Linked DNA regions of Homo sapiens: region 1 is linked to region 2. The links come from fine-mapping of genetic effects on gene expression. A gene starts in region 2. The other region holds a variant in brackets. All regions are shown on one strand. Distances are from middle to middle.

Region 1 (5,376 bases), 170 kb after region 2:
TGCCAAAAAAGAAAGCTTTAAAAGGCTTTTAAGAAATCATATGCAATATAACCCACATTTCTGACTCCACCCAAGAAACTGTCAGCAAAATATATGTTGCTGTTTAAACCTTTGAGTTGGGTTTGTGGGGCCTCAGTCATGTGAAAATAACACACAGATGGGGGCATGATGAGGTCATTTTCCTGAAGGTCACACAAAAATAAATGGCAGGGCTGCTGATGAAATGGTTCTGGAGCCACATGCTCACGCTGTGTGAAGTGGAAAGCAAAGGTGCTGGGACCACCTTCTCCGAGCTGCACAGCACCACGGAAAGGACACAGCATTGCTGAGGGAGGGGTTTTCCAGGGCAGGTTCAAGACCCTTCTCTGCAGCCCCTGTTGGGTTTTCCCTAGATCCAGAAGAGAGGGGTGTGGAACTAAGTGCTTCAGCACCTACTCTTAAAACATTACTCTAAAAGCATCCTTAAGGATTCTAAGGGAAGCTAAAGGGAGGAAAACCCCAAAGATAAACCCCTGGCAGTCCTCTAACCACTGGGGAGAGCAGCCCCCCCGTTCAGACCCGCACCAGCCTGGGCAGAGGAACAGCCTGAGCCCGTCTAAGAAGTTTGGTAATAATTTTGCCATCCAGTTGAGGAGGGGCTAGGATCTTCTCCCATTCTCCTACTGGATTTACAGCAGCTCCTGGGAATGAGAACTGCGTGAGATATTTCCCTACACAAATTGGGTAGAGATAGCCGGACGCCTAAATACTTTTAACAGAGGTAACAAGCTAGAGCTGGCTTAGTCATTTTGTCCGCAGACCATAGCAAGAGAGTTTTTATTTCTGGCCACGTCTGAGGCCTCACGTCTGGCACCCAAGGCCAGGGCTCTCCCTAATGCCCTCCAATTAACAGAGCTTGGTACTCCAGCAAAAACACCAAACAAACTGCTGGATAATCAGTTAAAAGATCAATCTCATGGAACAAGCAACTGAGATGCTGGAGAATCCAATTCCTTCCTCTAAGAGGAAAAACAAAGACATTTGCATGTGCTGAGCAAAACCAAGAATAAGCAAGAAAACATGCTATTTGAATTCCGTTCAAAATGTCTCTAATAAGTGAAGCAAATTCTGCACATTCTGGGCCTCTGCAGAGAACAAATAGTGTTCTGCCTTTAATGGGTAAAATTATACAATTTGCTTTTAACAGTAAACCAAAAGCCGCGGTGGCTTCGGATAGCATCGCGCTCCCGAGGGCTCCCTCCACGCAGCTCGACCCCTGGCAGTTTTGAGCATTTCGGGGGACGCGCTTGTCCCCACCGACCTGGGAGGGCGCCGGTGCCAAGGCGGCCTGTTTGTTTTCCTGAACATTTCCTTTTGCAACTTTCGCTTCTCCTCTTCCTGCCTCACCGCTGGTGTCTGGGGCTGGGTGGCTCTCAGATTTGTCCCGGTGCGCAGTGCAGCCTGGAGTTACTGATTTGTGACCTAGATCCCCGGGTGTGTCGCCCCCGAAAGTCGGGGGCACCCGCTCTGGGCGCCTCTCCTGCGTGGGCAGACCCGCCGAACTCCGGCTGACGCCCCCAAGGCGCCACCTTTGTGTTCAAGCGTTCCGAGGCGCAGGCCCGAGGGCGGGCGCAGGAGGCAGGTCCGGGGCCCCAGCTGCAGCCCCAGCTCCTTGGGTCCCGCCCGCCGCCCGCGCGTTCCCCCGGCAGGGGGCGCCGGCGCAAGCCTCGCTCTGCCCATCGGGGCGGGCGAGCGGGGACCCTGCCTCCTGCGCGCTCGCCCGCGGTCCGCCCCCCGCGCTCGTCCTGGCGGCCGGCGGGACGCCCCAGCCCGCGCCAAGGAACCTCCCCAGCCAGCCCTTGCCGTGGCCGGAGCCGAGCGGCGCATCCGGGCCGGAGAAGAGGACGACGACGAGGTCCTCGAAGTGGACCCGTTTGCGAAGCGCCAGGGAGAAGGAGGAGCGGACGCATCGTAGAAAGGGGTGGTGGCGCCCGACCCCGCGCCCCGGCCCGAAGCTCTGAGGGCTTCCCGGCCCCCACTGCCTGCGGCATGGCCCGGGGCTCGGCGCTCCCGCGGCGGCCGCTGCTGTGCATCCCGGCCGTCTGGGCGGCCGCCGCGCTTCTGCTCTCAGTGTCCCGGACTTCAGGTAGGATCTGGCGTTCCGGCTTGTGCGCAGACGGTAGCTCACGGCTCGCTTGGCCAGCCCTTCCGCCGCCACTATGCTCCCGGCCGCTGCGCCGGCGCCCATGCTCCTGAACGAGGGGCGCCAGGCAGGGCCATTCGCATCTCGCCCGACGCCGCTCCCGGCCCGCACCCCGGACCCCCTCGGGCTGGTTACAATAAGCCGCGCTCTGGGGACGCCTAAGTGTTTCCAGAGTCTGGGGGCGGGCGGCGGCGGCTGGGAGCCTCTCGGTGGCGCTTCCCGAGGGTCGCGAGTGGGAGTGCGAGTGTGAATGTGAGTACCCGCCCTGGGCCCGGGACCCGAGTCCGCAGATGTGCCCCGAGGGTCCCAGGACCCGGGCTTCCTCCCCGAGGTCTTCCTCCTTCAAGGGCACACGGCCCCGAGTGTCCCCCGTCTGTCTCGGAGCGTCCCCCCACCCCCAGGGCGGCCTGATGCCTGGCAGAATCCTGGGGTGGACGTGGCCCCGGAGAAGCGGCTCTTGCGGCGGGGGTGGGGGCGCCGGCGGCTCCCGGGTCCTGACTTTCCCAGCCCGCGGGCCGCTTGATGGAAACGGGCTCTTTGGCATCCCTTTTGTTGGTCCCTGAAACCTCCTCTCCCCCACCGCTCTGGGGTGGCCGAAGTGGTGTGTGATCTGGATTGAAATGGTTTGTGACTGGGATCGCGGGTCCCTGAGCGGCTGGGGCGCGGCCGCCTTCTGGCCGCGCCGGGGGGACCCCCGGGACCTGTAGGAGGCTGGCGGCGGGAGGGGCGGGGCCCGGCTCCTAGGTGGGTTTCCTCCCGGGGCCCCACTTCCCCCGAGTCCCTGCGCGGTTTCGGCTGCTTGGATCCGGGGCGCAGAGGAACGGCGGGGAGGTTCGGAAGTGCAGCTTGGGACCTGCCTAGGTTGCCTGGAGGAGGCGGCGTTAGCTCTGGCGGTGCAGACTCCGGGAGCACCTCCCGCCCGCGCGCCTCGGGCCGGATTCTCGGCACCCTGCGGGGGTGGAGGAGGGCGGGCGGGGCCTTCAGGCCCAGGAGCGCCAGAGACCTATGGGGTTCGCCTGAAGCCCCCGGAATGTGTGAGACACTTCTTACTAGTAAATGGGCTTCAGTATCCCCC[A/C]TCCCTGCACTCCTGCAGGAAGGTGAGAATCGGGACAGTCGCAGGCTGGGAGACGCTCTGCTTTTCCTGCGTCCTGCTGGGAGCTGCGCGCTCCAGGTATCCTGGCCTGCCGCCCTAGCCGGCCCAAGGTACGCGAGTCAGAAAGGCTGCACAGTCTTTCCTGGGGGGGGGTTTTAGTTTAAGCAGATGTTGATTACGTCAGACATTCCTAATTACTTGATTTGGGAAGGGAGCTTGCGTTTATCTCACTGTGCATTAAAGCATAAACCGCTCAGAGTGCACAATAAAATAAGTAGACCACATTCTAAGTTGGTATCCATCACTCAAGACCTCTGTCGATTTCTGCAACCCCTCCCCCAAGAATCTCCCAGGAGATCCCTTTGCTGGGGGAGAGGGGTGGCGGGGAGGCGGCTTAAACACGTTGCTGGACGTGCTGTTGGGCGGCTTTTGCTGTTCACCCTGCGGTTAATTGTCCTACAAAAACTCTGCCTTGCAGACCATGAGGGTTGAGCGCAGCCTTTGAGGGGCGGTGCTGTGGTGGGGGTTTTTAGATGGGTGATGAGGAAAGCATGATGGGTCCATTGCTTAAGCCAAGGTGGTTGTAACAGGAAAGTTCCTTGAGTTTTGGGTGAAGGAATTTAAACACTCATAGTTTCCAGTGAATGTACAAATGTCTTATATGAACAAAGCAATTGGAGTCGTTTTCTTTAATTTTTGAACCCTGTTCTTTTTCTAGTGAAATACTCATAATCTTTATAGGAGAGGGCATAGGATATAATTCTCTTCGTTCTGTATGGCTAGGTTAACAAAATCCAAAGAGTATGATAATTTTTATTCAAAATAATAATAAAATTATATGATTACAGGAGATTTGAGTGTTTGGGATCTTTTCTGCTGTGAAAAGAGGAGTCCCTGTTATTTGAGTGTGTTTTATCCACGAAATAATTTATTATGTAAAACTATTTAGGGGTTTTTCTAAAAGGATTTGTAAGTTCTTATTCCACATTTTAATAGCAAGACTCTGTTTCCTCTGATGACAAATACTGATTTGGGACTATATACCAATCCTAGGTAGGGTAGGTGGGGAACGATGGAGCATTAGGGTCCCCCCAGCCCCCATTTTTGGCAGTGTAGTGTTTACTTTTGGCCCAGATCCCTGGAGTGATGGTGGTAATAAATAATGATAGTGATCCGTCTAGAAGAAATCCATCTAGAAGAAAATAAATGGAAACATCTTGAATAAGAAGACTTTGTGGAAAAAGAAAAGTTTTTATGTATATAGTAAGGCAACATATTTTTCTTATTACGGCTGTGTACCAAGCACAGAGCTACACATTTGAAATTTTTCAGTATAATTGTGAGATCCTGCTTAACTCTCATGTCCACTTCATAAAGCATGTCACCCTGAAAATCTGATCGCCGTGGACCCTATGTGACACTCAGTGTAACTGAGAGGGCTCTGGAAAGCCAAGCTGAACTTTTAATTAGTAAAGCAAATCATGGAAAACTGACAAGTCTGCTTTATATTTTATATGTAAAAAAGCAACATGGGTTTTTTAAAATGTGCGTTTTCCAGGGGTAGTTTTTGGTGACTGCTCTGCAGATTTTTAAGGCAATGTTAAACAACATTTTTATTTTTATTGTGAAACCTTTTTTTTATTGTTTATTCAAAGTGCTGCTGTAATTGGTGTTTGTATGTCTCTCTCTTAAGTGTGGTTTGCAGTGAATCACTTGTTGCCCCTTAAACAGTTAGCCTGGATTTAACCTCCAAGAGATTAAGTCTGGCAGAGTCTGAATTTTACACTGCTCTTTTCTTTGGAAGCTCTTCTGAAATCAGTGGAATAGAAATACAGGGGTACGAACAGCTCATCTGACAGGTAGGGAAGATTAATCCCCTTTAGAAAGGTTTCAGCTGGTGGACTGGCACTCCTTTAAAATGCATTCCCTGAGAGGCCAGGATGGGAAAAGTTATTAGTGAAATGGGAACTGGATGTGAAGGACTTGAGCTCCCTAATCTGCAGGACCTGGCTAGTCTGTTGTAGTGCTGGAAATTTGTGTACTCTTTGTAATCCTTTCCCTTGGAGAGTTCTAATTATATAATTCCACATTGTAGTCAGGG
Region 2 (5,315 bases):
CAAGGAAGCTGCAATATTTATATCCCAGCTACCATCAGTAATCCACACTGGTAAGTACTGCCCAGGAGAAGATACATTCTCAGATACTTCCAACTCTCCAGGAGAGCAGGAAACGTGGGAATGGCAGCCTTCAAGGGGGTCCTCTGAGAAATGCAGGCGTGGCTGCTGGAAGGAAAGCACCCGGGGGAGGAAATGCACGCAAGCACAGGACTGTGAGCAGAGCACTGACACGGACTCCATATCGCCAGCTTATGTGGAAATGTAGCACATAGTGTAGCGGCATCATTATCTGGGGTAATACCTGAGGTTCATTGTCCCACAGCCATGGAAAACTAGGACGCGACACACCACAGTGAGGTTAAGAGCAGAAGTTTAATAGGCAAACGAAAGAGAAGAGCTATCTGTGCAGAGAAAGGGGTCCCAGAGAAAATGGGTTGCCAGTTCTGCGGTGAAACGCACAGGGTTTTATAGATGAGCTTGAGGAAGTGGCGTTTGATTTACGTAGGGAATGAAAGACTGGTTGGACCAGGTGTGCCATTTGCATAGTGCATGAAGAAGCTGGCCTTCCCACCCTAATATTTTATTCTGCAGATGGCTTCTCTACCTGACTGATGCCATGTTGCCTGTTCCTTCACTGTACACGTGGTGACAAAGAAAATGGAAGATGGAGTCTCCATATTGAACATACCTGGCTTCCAGGTAGTCTTTTTCTATCGGCACAACTGCCAGCATTCTCCCGTGCACTGCCAGCTTGCTTATCTATGTTTGTAGCTCAATTTTTCAGGCTGCTCTTTGCAAAAAAGAAATAATTTTGGGGTTGCTTTTTGTTCAGAAAGAAGCTCTGCTGAGGACTCTCTTACCTTCACTATCTGCCTAAATAATTTCTTTTTGGCTCCTGTATCAATAGCACTGGTACCATTTCAGAATTCTGGGGAAAGTCAGGGTTACTCAAATAAATGGCACTCAAAAAATTGTTATTCCTTTAGAAAAAAACATAATTAAGTCCCTTAACTCTCATTATCCAAAAATATAGTTTCCAGAGTAAAGAGCTAATTGCAAATAACAACAAACTGCTGCAAGAATGGTTGGAAACCATAGATGTGGTGAAGAAGGCCTTTCTAAGCAATATGCAGATCCAGAGGCAAAAAACAGACTGAAGCACTACATAAAATTTAAAATTAAAGTATGATGAAAGAGCAGAAACAACTAGGCGGCAACTGAGCAAAAATATTTTTCACATATGAAACAGAAAAATATAAGATATTCAGAATGTATAGAGTTCCTACAAATCCATAAGAAGGCAAAAATAACCAATAGAAAAATGGATTAAGAATATGAATTGGCGATTCATACAGTCTATAAATGCCAATAAACATATAAGAAGCTGCACAACCTCATGAGTAACCAGAAGCATCAATAATAAAGGATAGTGAGGTATCATTTTATCTCCATTAAACTGGCAAATTTTTTTAAAAGATTGATAATATCCATCATGGACTAGAGCATAGAAAAACTTCCAAATTATTTTAATTGGTTGAGCCATTTTGGCAGTACTTATCAAAATTAATAACGTGCATAGTCTTCAGATATATCCCATGTTGAAAAAACTGGTCAGAAAAACTCCAACATGCACAGAAAGATATACACACAAGGAACATCGACAGTTATGGCAGCATTATTTGTAATAGGGGAAAGGTGGGAACAACATAAGTATTCACCAATAGGGAAACGTTTACATAAAATGGAACGATGAATATACATAAATTATTCCATGGAAGTCTTCAGCCATTAAATATGAGATATATTAGGAAAAAAATGCTAGAAAAAAAATTTAAAAAAAGTTGTAGAAAAGTCTTGTCCCTATGATCTCAATTATATTTAAGAAATCCAATCCAATTAAGTATGTGCGCGTGCATACTGTTTGCATATGCATTGGAAGGCTCTAAAAGGTTCTTTACCAAACTGCTATATGATTTAATACCTGCAAAGCCTTGGCCTATGTCTGACAAAACAGGAAGTGCTATATGGGTTGGCTATTTTTGTGTATAATTATGCATTTCTTAATGATAATGCATTGCTGGATTACTTATGCTACTAAACGTAAACGTATTGGCCAGGCGCGGTGGCTCACGCCTCTAATCCCAGCACTTTGGGAGGCCGAGGCAGGCGGATCACCTGAGGTCAGGAGTTTGAGACCAGCCTGACCAACATGGAGAAACCCCGTCTCTACTAAAAATACAAAATTAGCCAGGCGTGGTAGCCCACGCCTGTAATCCCGGCTACTCGGGAGGCTGGGGCAGGAGAATCGCTTGAACCCGGGAGGCGGAGGTTGCGGTGAACCGAGATCACGCCATTGCACTACAGCCTGGGCAACAAAAGCGAAACTCCGTCTCAAAAAAAAAAAAATAAAGTAAACGTATTGCAATCATTTTAACTCTCTGCGCCCAGCTGATGACCAAGTGTAAGGCCCGTTCATTACTACTTTCTCCATCCTGAATCCAGCAGGGAGGGTAATAGGACACAAGGTAAACAATTCTTGGAAAAACTGCGGCATCCCACCTGACCCCGTCCAGCCTCCTGTCAACCAGTGCGCAAGTGCGAGTAGGCGGTGCCCAGCGCTCCGCCGCCCCGCCCTCTGCGGAGGTGATAACGACACTGAGCAGCGACGCGCACTTTTGGGACGCGCTTGTGACCCGCCTTCCGGAAGGAAGCGGCTAACTATGGCGACCGCCACGGAGCAGTGGGTTCTGGTGGAGATGGTACAGGCGCTTTACGAGGTGGGCTCCGCGCCATTAGCGGTCCGCGACCACACCCGGGCCCGGGGAGGGTGGGAGGACGCGTGTGGATTTGTGGCCTGAGACCTCGGCGGGACTGGCTCGGTCACGCCCAGACTCGGTGCCTCTTGCTGGAAGGACTGCCGGGAGCTTCTAGTCCCAGCGGTTGAGTGTAGGGAGGAACGGGCGGGGGCGGGGGCTGGGACTGAGGGTCTCGGTTTGAATTCTTATGCTCCGGGTCCCCTGGAAGCTCCGGAAAGGAACACGTGTAAGGGGACGCAGGAGACAGGTCTGCAAAAACCAGAGTTTAGACGGACGATAAAACGGAGTGGTGAAAATGAGTGGAACACCTTCGTCTGGGAAGGTCCTAAGGAAGTCAGCTCTTTGGAACTACGGTACAGTTCGTTGGGGAATAAAATTGTAATAAATTGGAGTTTGTTTTTGTCGAAAAGAAATCAAGTGACTTAGGATTTGTGAATAAAAAATAGTTTGTCATTCTTCTGCGTACATCAGTTTTCTGTCTTATAAAGATACAACTAGTTTAGTCGATTTTTATTTATTTATTTTTGTTTTTTTTTTTTGAGACGGTGTTTCGCACTTGTTGCTCAAGCTGGAGTGCAAGGGCGTGATCTCGGCTCACTACAACCTCCGCCTCCCGGGTTTAAGCGATTCTCCTGCCTCAGCTTCCCAGGTAGCTGAGATTACAGGCATGTGCCACCATGCCCGGCCAATTTTGTATTTTTATTAGAGACGGGGTTTCTGCATGTTGGTCAGGCTGGTCTCGAACTCCCGACCTCAGGTGATCCGCCCGCCTTGGCCTCCCAAAGTGCTGGGATTATAGGCTTGAGCCACTGCACCTGGCCGTAGACTTTTAAAGGAAGAATAGTTAAGAGTTTTTTGAAGCCTAGTTATTTCAGATACATAAGATAATAAGAAACCAGAATGTCAATCTTAGTGTTCATTCATTTAATAACTGAGAGTCCCCGTGCTGTCTTGCAGAGCTATTCATTGGGCACTGAAGAACTTATTTTATTTTATTTTATTTTTTAAAGACAGGGTTTCACTCTGTCGCCCAGGCTAGAGTGCAGTGGTGCGATCAGCTCACTGCTGCGTTGACCTCCCAGACTCAAGCGATCCTCCCACCTCAGACTCCCGAGTAGCTGGGACCACATACCACCATGCCCAACTAATCTTTTTTTTTTTTTAATAGAGACGGGGGCTTGCTGTGTTGCCCAGCCTGGCCTCGAACTCCTGGCCTCAAGTAATCCTCCTGCTTTGGCCTCCCAAAGTGCTGGGATTACAGGCATGAGCTACCACACCCAGCTGCAACTGAATTTTTAATTTAACTTAAATAGCCACGTGTAACTTAGTGACTGTCCACATTGGACCACACAGATCTAGATGCTAGGGATAGTGCGGTGAACAAATAGGCAGAAGTCCCTGTGCTTAAAGAGCTTACATTCATTTCAAGTGAATTTCACTTTACTTTTGATGATTTAATATCACCAAACTTAATATCACCGTCTACTGGTAGGGGTAATGACAGTGTCTTCCATTGCAGGACATACTGGGAATTTTATCTTGAAACAGCAGAGACAGCAGATGTGGCTCTGTCTTATGCTCATGTATTAAGTGATGCCCAGTATTAGGTTAACTGTAGTGACCTAAAATGAGCCACTAAAATTGAATGATCTTTTTTATAAATGATTTTTTAAAGAAATGGATTATTTTCTGTTAAATGTTGTTTGCTCCCTTTTTGAAGACTGACAGTAGTGTAACTTCTCATTCCCCGAAACTGTCCAACAGTGAGACTTGGGAGAACTCCTGTATGTAACATTTCCTGGGAAGGAAAAGAAGTGGTGTTTGTGATTTTTATTAATTCACTAGAGAGAGAGTTTCTCAGCTTTTCTTAGGGTGATTTCTTTTTGGAGTGGGCTCTTAACTAGTGGCTGGGGCAGATGTTTGCTTGCTAGAATCCAACTATTGAGAAAACTAAAAGGGTATTTAGACTTATTCATAAATGAATTGTATTTAGGGGGATGAGCAAATTTTAAAATTCATCATAAACTTCTTACTCCCAAATCCTATGCGTGTTGAATGTAGAATTTGAGTAGTCTTGTATAGTGTACCCAAAAAAGAACCACTGAAATTAAATAATCCGATGGTTAATATTGGGATTCTGTGTTAGATTTTATTTATTTATTTATTTGAGACGGAGTTTTGCTCCTGTTGCCCAGGCTGGAGTGCAGTGGTGTGATCTCGGCTCACCACAACCTCCACCTCCTGGGTTCAAGCGATTCTCCTGCCTCAGCCTCCCAAGTAGCTGGGATTACAGGTATGCGCCACCAGACCCAGCTAATTTTGTATTTTTAATAGAGACAGGGTTTCTCCATGTTGGTCAGGCTGGTCTCAAACTCCCGCCCTCAGGTGATCTGCCCACCTTGGCCTCCCAAAGTGCTGGGATTACAAGTATGAGCCACCACGCCTGGCCTAGATTTTATTTTTTTAATTTTAATTTTTATTCCCAAAGAAGTTTTAAAA

The links.
Region 1: its variant is fine-mapped to the expression of SPTLC1 in visceral fat (GTEx, PIP above 0.99). The same link has a PIP of 0.9 or more in whole blood.

Annotation. Positions count from the first base shown.
Region 1 is chr9:91,946,616-91,951,991 of GRCh38, reverse strand. ROR2 (receptor tyrosine kinase like orphan receptor 2) reads left to right here and starts at 1,764. Exons shown (of 9, transcript NM_004560.4): 1 at 1,764-2,125. The coding sequence starts at 2,029. RefSeq lists silencers at 1,191-1,485, 1,599-1,778 and enhancers at 1,972-2,471, 2,472-2,973. The variant A/C (reference allele first, on the strand shown) is at 3,258.
Region 2 is chr9:92,112,776-92,118,090 of GRCh38, reverse strand. It overlaps SPTLC1 (serine palmitoyltransferase long chain base subunit 1), which reads left to right and starts at 2,678. Exons shown (of 15, transcript NM_006415.4): 1 at 2,678-2,777. The coding sequence starts at 2,721. RefSeq lists an enhancer at 2,116-2,175.